Regions from separate parts of the Homo sapiens genome. Here region 1 is reported to be linked to region 2. The links are microRNA targets in miRTarBase. Many come from high-throughput screens and were not tested one by one. Region 2 holds a microRNA gene; the other region holds the end of a gene's coding sequence.

Region 1 (5,385 bases), not on the chromosome of region 2:
AGGTGCCTGTAGTCCCAGCTACTCGGGAGGCTGAGGCAGGAGAATGGCGTGAACCCAGGAGGCAGAGCTTGCAGTGAGCCGAGATTGCGCCACTGCACTCCAGCCTGGGCGACAGAGCGAGACTCCGTCTCAAAAAAAAAAAAAAAAAAATTAGCCAGGCGTGGTGGCGGGTGCCTGTGGTCCCAGTTACTGGGGCGGCTGAGGCAGGAGAATGGCGTGAACCTGTGAGGTGGAGCTTGCAGTGAGCCAAGATTGGGCCACTGCACTCCAGCCTGGGCAAGAAAGCGAGACTCTCAAAAAAAAAACCACTAGTCTGGGCGCGGTGGCTCCTGCCTGTAATCCCAACACTTTGGGAGGCCAAGGTGGGTGGATCACCTGAGGTCAGGAGTTCGAGACCAGCCTGGCCAACATGGTGAAACCCCATCTCTACTAAAAATACAAAAATTAGGTCAGGCATGGTGGCTCACGCCTGTAATCCCAGCACTTTGGGAGACTGAAGCAGGCGGATCATGAGGTCAAGAGATGGAGACCATCCTGGCCAACATGGTGAAACCCTGTCTCTACTAAAAATACAAAAATGGCTGGGCACGGTGGCTCATGCCTGTAATCCCAGCACTTTGGGAGGCCGAGGTGGGTGGATCACGTTAGGTCGGGAGTTCAAGACTAGCCTGACCAACATGGAGAAACCCCATCTCTACTAAAAATACAAAATTAGCTGGGCATGGTGGCACATGGCTGTAATCCCAGCTACTTCAGGAAGCTGAGGCAGGAGAATCACTTGAACCCAGGAGGTGAGGTTGCCGTGAGCCGAGATCGCGCCAGTGCACTCCAGCCTGGGCAATAAGAGTGAAACTCCGTCTCAAAAAAAAAAAAAACACTAAAATTAGCTGTGCATGGTGGCGCGCGCCTGTAGTCCCAGCTACTCAGGAGACTGAGGCAGGAGAATCGCTTGAACCCAGGAGGCAGAGGTTGCAGTGAGCCGAGATGGTGCCACTGCACTCCAGCCTGAATGACAGAGTGAAACTCCGTCTCAAAAAAAAAAAAAAAAAAAAAAAAAAAACACAGAAACTCTGGCAGCCATCACAGTGTGATTATTTGTTTATTTCATTAAATGTTTAACGAGGCTACATTGTTTCCCAAACCAATGTCTAATTTGTGAAGGAAACAGCGCAGAGAAGGAAGCTGGGTGACTCCTGCATCTGGGGTGGGGAAGGGAGTAAGGTCCCCTCCCTCCATCCTACAGAGGCCTTTGAGGATCAGCAACAGTCCCATTCCCTCCTCCCACCCACTGAGCTCCTCAGCCCAGAGCCCTCCTCCCCAGAAATAAAACGTCTGGCAACCCAGACCTGCAGAAAGGGACCAAAAATCCATTCCTGGTGGTATTGAAAATGTATTAAACTTTGGGGGGTCCTCCAGCTGATTGATTTTTCTAATTATGTTTGCTTTAGATGGATATTTAAATGCATTTGCATTCCCTGAGCTCACATGGCAGGATATGGAGGTTGGAGGAAAGAGGGGGCACAAACACTCCACACTCTGCACTTTGGTGGTTGCAGGCTTGAACCTGCTATACACTGAGAAGTCCAAAGTGGAAAAGAGAAGCCACTCAGCTAAAAATCGCAAGTCGATTTTTATGGCAGGTCCTTGTGGGGAAAGGGTCAGTCCTCAGAGACAGATGGAGATCCACCTAGCTGGGCCTGGAGCCCCTGCCCTCTCCTGTACCCTTAGCCGAGGACTCAGGGTCTTTGAGTCAGTCCCTAACCAGGTCTCAGTTTGAGGGGGTGGTTATCCAAGCACACTTAGATAATTTCAAATGCCATTGAAGTTATCCTAGAATCTTTGAGACTGGCTGAGATGAACTAGTCCCATAGGAGAGGTTGGGATAGGGATATCTGATGATCCAGGGAGTGGTGGGTAGGGATTCCTTTCCTCTCAAGACTGGAACCTGGCATAAGGGAAAGGAGAAGCTATTTTTTATTTTTTATTTTTTAATTTTTTTTAGAGACAGGGTCTCACTCTGACACTCAGGCTGGAAGACAATGGCATGATCATAGCTCACTGCAGTCTCTAACTCCTGGCCTCAAGCGATCCTCCCAGCTTGGCCTCCCAAAGGAGGAATCTTGGCTGGGATTATAGGTGTGAGCCACTGCCGAGAAGCTATTATTTTAAATGACACACCTCAGAGCCAAATCTCCCAGCTCCAACACCACATCCAGATAACCATCTATCCAAAAAACAACTCTGATCACTTCACTCTCTGCCTGAAATTCCTGGTGGCTTCATCCTCTGAGGATGATTTCATTCATCCTCAGAATGAAATTCTGATTCCTCTGTGGACCCTGCAGTAGCCTCAGTGTACCTTCCTAGCCTTGTCTTCTATTCTCCCTGCCATGGGAGCCCCAACAGTGCTATGCTCATTCTCATCTCCACGTGTTTACACATGCTGTACCCTCTGCCCAGAGTGCCTTTCCTACCCCTTCCCTGCCCGGAAAACTCCTCTTCAACCCTCAGGACCTGGCTCACAGGACTGGCTTCTCAGGCTGCAAGGAGCTCCCATAGCATCCCATACATGTACAAATATCCCTCAGCCATGGCACCCTCACACCTGAGGTACCTCTCTTCCACACTGGGCTGGCCTCCAAAAGCTTAGAGACTGGTCCTTGCAATCTCCCAAGCCAGTGTATGCCACACAGTTGGTGTTCAGTACATACTTGCTGAATGAATGAATGAGGGAGGAATGGGCTATAAATTTGGGTGGGATCCCAGCAGATAGTTGGGTAAGGTCAGTGTTCTCTTCCAGTGTGTCTGGGAGAACTGGCTAGGGCTGGGGGAGGGAAGGGCCAGGGATGGTTCCTGGGGGAGAATGTCACCGAAAAGAGGCCAGTGGGACCAGAGCCAGGAAGGGAATACAGGACAATCTGAAACCAGACTCCCGAGAAAACAGACCAGTACTGTCTTTCCTGACAACAGGCGCTCAGCCGTCCTCTCCACCGTCTTTCCTTTAAGGGACAGGGTAGGGGTGACTCTAACAGCTGATGCTCCCCTGAAAGCCATCATGAAACTCAGCATGGGAGGAGAGAAAGGTCCCTGGCCTGAGCCTCTAAGGAGACCCCAGAATCAAACTACTGACCTCTTAGGAAACTTCACGCTGTACAGGGGTAGCTTCTGTGATGTGGAGGCTTTTGATGCCTTCTTTTTTTTTTTTTTTTTTTTTTTTGGAGACAGAGTCTTGCTCTGTCATCCAGGCTAGAATGCAGTGGCGCAATCTCGGCTCACTGCAAGCTCCGCCTCCCAGGTTCACCCGGGTTCACACCATTCTCCTGCCTCAGCCTCCCGAGCAGCTGGGACTACAGGCACTGCCACCGCGCCTGGCTAATTTTTTGTATTTTTAGTAGAGATGGGGTTTCACCGTGTTAGCCAGGATGGTCTCGATCTCCTGAACTTGTGATCCGCCCACCTCGGCCTCCCAAAGTGCTGGGATTACAGGCGTGAGCCAGCGCGCCCGGCCTGATGCCTCCTTATCCCCACAACCCCCAGGGTACCAGCAGGCTCCAAGCCAGGGGTACAGATGGTGAGCAGGACCCCTCCCACACTAGCAGCAGGCCTGGCTGGGCTGAGAAATGCTGACTAATTATATGTCGGTCTGCTCTAAAACCCCCTAATGGCCTGAGAATTGCCCACTTCATTAACTAGGATGAACAGTCCCAGGATGTCTCCTTCTCCCAACTCTGACTCCTAAAAGGACACTTCTGATCCAACCTATGGCTTTGTCCTCTGCTCTATCTGTGGACATGGACAGGAAAGTTCCCCAGCTGAGGTCTAACTTTCCCTCTTACTGCTAAAGATTGGTAGATTGATTTTTTTAAAAAGCAACAAAACTAAAGCCACAGCCGTTTTCCATGGAGGTGGGCTTTATTAGGTGACTGTTGAGGCAAGGGAGGTTCTAGGGCTGGTGGACTGATGGGGGGCAAGGGCTTCTCCTTGCTTTTGAATTTAGTGCATGTTGCCTAGAGGTTAGATGTGTGAGAATAGCTGCAGAAGTGAGAGGAGAGGAAAAGAGAAGGTCATAGAATGGACATTTTCCTTGGGCCAGAACCAGGATATGGGGACTGGGGGTGGAGAGGGAGGGTACTCTTCACATAGGAGACTCCACCAAGGTCACCATTTGATACCAGCTTCCCTAACGCCCACCTGCCCCATCCCAGTTCATGCCCCAGATGCCAGCCCTGTTAGCTCCCTCAACATCCACTGGAGAAGAGGAGGGAGGAGGAGATGAGAAACGATGATACCCTTCTGCCCTCCAGCTCCCCTGCCCAGAATTGCTCGCTCTGCCTGCCCTAACTTCCCAGCCAGGATCAGGAGGTCAGGAAGCCTGGGCGCAGGCAGGGGAACAATTGTGTCCCTCACCACCCCTCTTCACACTCTGCCCTCTCCTAGCCCCTCACATGAGGTTGCAGCTTTTGGCTCGATCCTTGTGTATCTCGCCCTCATTCCCCCGGTCTGGCCGTCCTGACAGCTGAGCGGATCGCTGCATTCCCCGGCGTGAGTCAGTTCGGCGCAGCTGCCTATGGCCACGGCCAAGGGAGGCCACTGTAGCCACATGGAAGACATCCCTGACGCTGCGCTCAGAGGACCGGGAGGAGCACTCAACATAGGACACAGCCCCCACCTGCTTGGCCAGCACAGTGCCCTGGAAAAGGAAGGAGTGCATGGGAGAAAGTTATAGGTCTTAGCCTGCAGCTTAGAAAGGGGCATGGAGGCTGTGGGCTGGGGTTGAATGTCAAGGCTGGGGGCAGTCAAGGGATCAGGTCAGAGGTCACAGACCAGAACAAAGGATGAGCCAGGTAAGGTGTTTTCAAATCAGAGACTGAAGGGGCAGAGGTGACAGGTCTAGGCTGGGATGAGGTCAGACGTCAAGGGTCCCACCTGCTCATGTGTAACAGGGATAAGCCTCTGCTTGGACAGCTCCCTCAGTGTGGCCAGGTCAGTCCGCATGTCCAGTTTACAGCCAACCAGCACAACCTTGGCATTGGGGCAGAACTCTTGAGTCTCTCCTTGCCACTATGTAGGAGAAGAAAAGAGAATTGTGGAGGGGTGGAGGGAGGCACAGCGTGAGCCTTTGTGCCATGCCAGCAGTGTGCCCTCTCTTCCTCAAGCACGCAGAAACCATGTATCCCTCAGGACTCTCCCACATGAGGAAGGAGGTGAGAATGCTAGGCTTGGTTTGAGAGCAGGATGGGGTGAGAGAGAAGCAGCGGGGAGGAGAGGGCTGGCGTGGGCCTGTGGACTCTTCTCCCTCAGTGGCTATGAAGGGTCTGCCAGCCTGGAAACTTCCCATTCCCACTCGCCTTTCCCATACTCTCTCCTGGGAACAAATTTATCCCA
Region 2 (5,385 bases):
TTGAAAGGTTGCAATACTAAGGTTGTTTCTGGTATCATAGAATACTTAATAGCATTTACTCAGTATGACTCTTTCAATATCCCTTGAGTAAGTTACTAGTGAGTACTATAAATCTCCAAACCACATAACGTAAAGGAGTGCTCAGAATAGTAAATTACACATAGTAAATATGTAATAAATGTAATGTGTCAACATTATTATTATTTGTATGATTACTGATATATGCATTGGGTTTGAAGATCAGTGTGATAAGCCATACTTGAGTTTCAATGGGACCTGCAATAGATGCACTACAACAGAACAAATAATATGATTGGAGTGACAGAAAAATTAACAACCAAAGATAGATCAAAATCTGAGCTTCCTGATGAACTAGAAACATTGTGAATGCTTAGGTTTCTTGTAATTCTGTAGACTCTCAAACAGTGCTTGTTTGTTTAATTAGTTAATGCAGACTTGGTAGGTGGACTGGAAATGTAGTGACAATGAGTAAAAGATGGGTTTTTAGAGAAACATGTAGGCGGCATTGGGTATGTCTTTGGGATATGTCTATAGTAGGTGAAATTTTGCATCTTTTCTACAGACACTAGCGGAACCAGGAGAGAAGATAATTTCCCTATTATAGCTGATGTCAGCTTACTATTATAAGTAGAAAGGCATGACTCAAAGATAGACTAGTAGAAGAGGGGTATCTCATTAATTATGTCCCCAATAGCTATAATCACTCCTACTTAAAATTTTTTATCCTAACATTACTTTTTTTCTAAGAAGAAATGTTGATAGGCTGTGAAAATAAGACGATCACAAGAAAAAAATAACTCAAACCATCAAATTTACTGTCTTATTTAATGTCTAGCAATTCTTGCCATTTTCAGGGATTCTCTCCTACTCTGCCTTTTACATTGAAGAATATTTATTCTACGTTGTTAGTTCTTGGCTACTGAGCTTTTAGTTTTGACCATATTTATTCGTCGAATCATTAGTTATCACTGGGGTAGTAAGACTGGATATTATATAAACAGTGAAGAGACATCCCTAACAAATATGCTTGTAGAACTGGGGATAGTTAATTATCAGCAGGTTACAAGTGAGCTTAGTCTTTGAAGAATAAATGAAGAAACAAAAGTGAAAACATTGAGGAAAGCATTCCAGAAAGATGAATACAAATGTGCAAAACTTTGGAAACATGAAAATGCATGATGTTTTATAAAGAGAATTTTAGAAGAAGCTTTATGTCTGGAAGGTAAATGAGTTTTGAAGATTTGGCAGCCATGTGAGGCTAAAGGGAGAATCTGGGGCCAAAATATTAACAACTTGGGGGAGCTGAAAGTTTGCAAATATAGAAGTGACGAAGATCTACATTTTACAGACATCTCAGGAGATGAATTTAGGGTTGGTTTTAAATGACAAGAGTTCATTTAGAAAGATGGTACAGTAATACAGGTGAAAAAAATAAAAATTTAATTAAAAGAAGCATTCATCAGTATAAGAAAGAGAAGGCTGATTTGGAAGATATTTGAGGGATAATTTTTAACAGAAATTATTGACTAATTAGAGTTTGGTTCATATGATTTAGCTCTGTGTCAAACCATATCAGCCAGACTCTAATTAGTCACCAAGGTTTACCAAATCTCATGTCAAATTGTAATCCCCAGTCTTAGAGAGGGGTGTCCATTGGGAAGTGACTGGATCATGAGGGTAGAGTTCTCAAAAATGGTTAGGCACCACTGCCTCAGTGCCGTTCTCTGATAGTGAGTCAGTTATCACAAAGTCTGGTTGTTTTAAAAGTGTGTGGCACCACTCCCCTCTCTCTCTTCCTTCTGCTTCAGCCATGTGAAGTGCTGACTCCTTGTTTGCCACCCACCATGGTTGTAAATTTCCTAAGGACTCCCTAGAAACCAAGCAGATGCTGTCATACTTCCTACATACAACCTTCACAACCATAAGCCAATTAAATCTCTTTTTTTTAATAAATTACCCAGTCTCAGGCATTTTTTTATAGCAATGTGAGAATGAACTAATACACTGGCTAAAGAAGCAACATTTACCTCAAACTGCACTGCCCAATAAGATATTCTTGAGCCCGATGTGGTTATCCACTTTTACTTTATATTGATTAATAGGTAAATTTAATTCCTGAGCTGGCATGAAGGAATCCTGAGTCTCAGCAACTCAGGAGATTGAGGCAAGAATTTGAGACCCCCATCTCTAAAACAAAAAATTATATCTCAGTAGAAATAGTCAATTTTAAGTACTCAATAGCTTCATGTGGCTTGTGGCTACCATATTGGAAAGCACAAATAAACAAGATTTTCTTCCTTATTGAACGATCTATTGGACAGCAGTAATATAGAGTCAATTCCTGGTATCCTTTGTGTTTATCAGAAGAAACTTATGAAAAAATCCAATTGGGAAATAACATAATGAGATAAGTCATAAATTTATTATGTTTGCATTAAATGTGGGTATACAATTGTTTTCCACCACTCTTCTGCTTTTACCAATAATGCATCAAGAATATCTGTGTTCTTATAGCTTTCTATTGAGATGCAAAATTGTAGGCAAAATTCCTAAGTGATTATTTATTATCTGCAAGAACATGTAATATTTAAAACAAATAATGATTGCAAAGTTCTCCTCTAATTTATATTATCTAGTTAAATGAGAAATCTTATTTCCCATGCAATAGCTTACAAAACTATATAATACAAAAAATAGAGATTTTCCAATCCAATCTCAGTGTAAAATTGCATATTTTACTTCATATGTATCTGACAAGTGATTCTAAATATTATTACATCTTTATAAGCAATTTGTATAGTTTTTTAGGTCTGACTTTATTATATTTTAAGCTTCTTTACTCCATTGGTATTGATTTGTATGGCATTTTTATACATTTAGAATATAAAATTAATCACAAAGTTGTCTTATAAGTTAAAAATCCCATTTCCCCATTATTTATTTCTTCATTTACTTTGTTTATGATGTAAGTGTAGCCCCTTTAAAATGTTGTTAAATATATCAATATTTCCTTTATGATTTGTGGAATATAACTCTTATTTATGTATAAGATCACTCTTGCCTTCTAGTATCTTGATAGTTCTTATGTTAAAGTATGAATATTTGATCTCCCATTTATTTTTCTATAAATTTATTTTAACCTACTAAGTGGTAGAACATTAAAAAATTGTAGCTATATACAATTGTATGAAAAAAAGAAAAGCACTAAGATTTCTTTGTTTTGTTTTTGTTGTTGTTAAGTGGCAAAAAGTGGCTAAAAAATCCCCTAGACTTTGTATGTTTGCATGCAAAGGATAAGCAGTAGAAATCTAATGTTTATAATAAAATATTGGAATGATTCCAAATAAATTAAAGAAAAAGTAAGTAATATTTTTCTCAATACTATACTCAGGCATTACAATAAGTCAAAAACAGAATAATTTAAGTTTATTTTTTTTAAAAAAAGCAAAATATTCATGCTTTTAAATTTGTGGAAGACCTTATAAAAATAATAACCTAAAAGAATTAACTGATACAATGTTGACAATTGGATTAATGTGATTGAAACTTATAGAGAAATTAAAAGATAAACTTGGCTTTAAGCTGTTGGAAAAATACATAGTTTATATGACAGAAATAAAACCAAGAATAGTATGTTAGAAAATTACGGAATCAAGGTTGCTTATATAATCTGTTCCTTAAGAATAAGTATCAATTAATAACTATTAAGGAAATAGAAACTGCATTGGCAATACCAGCATATCCTGAAGAACAAACTGTAAAACAGACTGAAGTGTTTTATTTCTAGTCAACTAGTTGAATGAAACTCCCATAAAGCCGTAGGTGTGAATGGTTGGAAGGGAAGCAATGCAGAAAGAAGCAGTGTCAAAAGACACTCTATCCCCTAGCCCTGCCCAAACTCATTTTCTTACATATCATTTTTACTCAATGATAGATTGGTGCTGCACATATCCAACTTTATTAATAGATGCGTTTGACTTGGAAAATGCAGACTGTATGGTCACCTGATGTCATCTTCAGTTTGTTCTCTTCTAAGGGCTAATAGTAAGTCAGAAGCTAATTCTCAAGAAGTAGGAAATTTACTTTCAGAAGAGAACATTGATTTACTCCAAAATCCTAGAAGTTGTCCTTGTGGTTCTTCTATTAGTGTCTATCAGAATGGCCTATAAAGCATCTCTATTTACCACAGATACTTTGAATATCAATGGATTTACTGAATCATTAGGCCATGGAGAAGAGCATCTTGTACTTTGGCCTGTATTTATTGAAAAGTCACCTCTTACTATATAGCTCTCAAAGATATAGGCAGCCTTAATATATGATTTGGTAAATATGCTGAAGAAGCACTCTCAACTGTGGTATGTTGTCTCCAAAATCTTGAAAACCCTGCCATGCATTGAGCTTTTACATTTTTTTTGTGACAGTGCAAAATGAAAAAATATATTTGCTACCTTCGAGGCAAGTATAGACATATTCCAGACATTTGAAACCACGAAACTTTAATGAAGAGGTGGATCCATGCATTTTTGTGGAATTACTGCCCAGATTCTGGCTAGAATTTACCTTACGAAACTATGTCATAGTAATTGCTACCTCTTACACATCAGATTCAATAAACTCAATGTCATCAATGTAGTGGACAAGACTGGGGCTTTGTGGAATGTCATGATGATCAAACTCTCTGCAAATCAGATCATATCTAGAAGAAAAAAAAATGATACAACCCTGAAACAAGGCTCTGAAGGTTTACTGTTAGCACAGCTAGGTAAAAGCAACTGACTTCTGAGGATCTTTACAGTATGGAGAAGAAAAGCATTAGCCATATCAGTAGGAGTTTATCAAGTGTTCAATGATGTATTTCATCATCCTGGTAATAAGTACAGTACTTAATAGGTAATTTTTCAATCATCACCCTCCTCCAACCCTCTACTCTCAAGTAGGCTCTGATGTCTATTGTTCTCTTCTTTGTGTCCCTGTGCACTCAATGCATATTCCTGCTATATAAGAGAGACACGTGGTATTTGGTTTTCTGTTCTTGCATTAGTTCACTTAAGTTAATGGCCTCCAGCTTTATCCACGTTGCTGCAAAGGACATGGTCTTGTTCCTTTTCATGTCTGCATAGTATTCCGTGGTATATGTATCCTATTTTCCTTATCCATTCTACCACCGATGGGCATTTAGGTTGATTCCATGTCTTTGCAATTGTGAATAGTGCTCTGATGAACATTCACATCCATGTTTCCTTCTGGTAGAATAATTTATATTCCTTTGGGTATATACCCAATCATGGGATTGCTGGATCAAATGGTAATTCTGCTTTAAGTTCTTTCAGAAATCATCAAACTGCTTTCCATAATGGTTAA

Evidence for each region. The annotated mature microRNA hsa-miR-5007-5p reads UAGAGUCUGGCUGAUAUGGUUU and lies in region 2 at 1,586-1,607, opposite strand. An mRNA with a match to its seed (bases 2 to 7 or 8) in the 3' UTR can be bound and repressed. Matches are read on the target gene's strand: a 7mer-m8 pairs with bases 2 to 8, a 7mer-A1 pairs with bases 2 to 7 and ends in A, and an 8mer does both.
Region 1: the mRNA of RND2 is a reported target of hsa-miR-5007-5p. Seed matches in the 3' UTR shown: 7mer-m8 at 3,224-3,230.

The regions. Positions count from the first base shown.
Region 1 is chr17:43,027,737-43,033,121 of GRCh38, reverse strand. It overlaps RND2 (Rho family GTPase 2), which reads right to left. Exons shown (of 5, transcript NM_005440.5): 4 at 4,927-5,061; 5 at 1,081-4,690. The coding sequence ends at 4,442. Among named protein-coding and RNA genes, the nearest start is that of RND2, 5.2 kb to the right of the region's middle.
Region 2 is chr13:55,170,696-55,176,080 of GRCh38, reverse strand. MIR5007 (microRNA 5007) reads right to left here and starts at 1,627; the gene lies at 1,533-1,627. All of the region lies in intron 4 of LINC02335 (long intergenic non-protein coding RNA 2335), which reads right to left.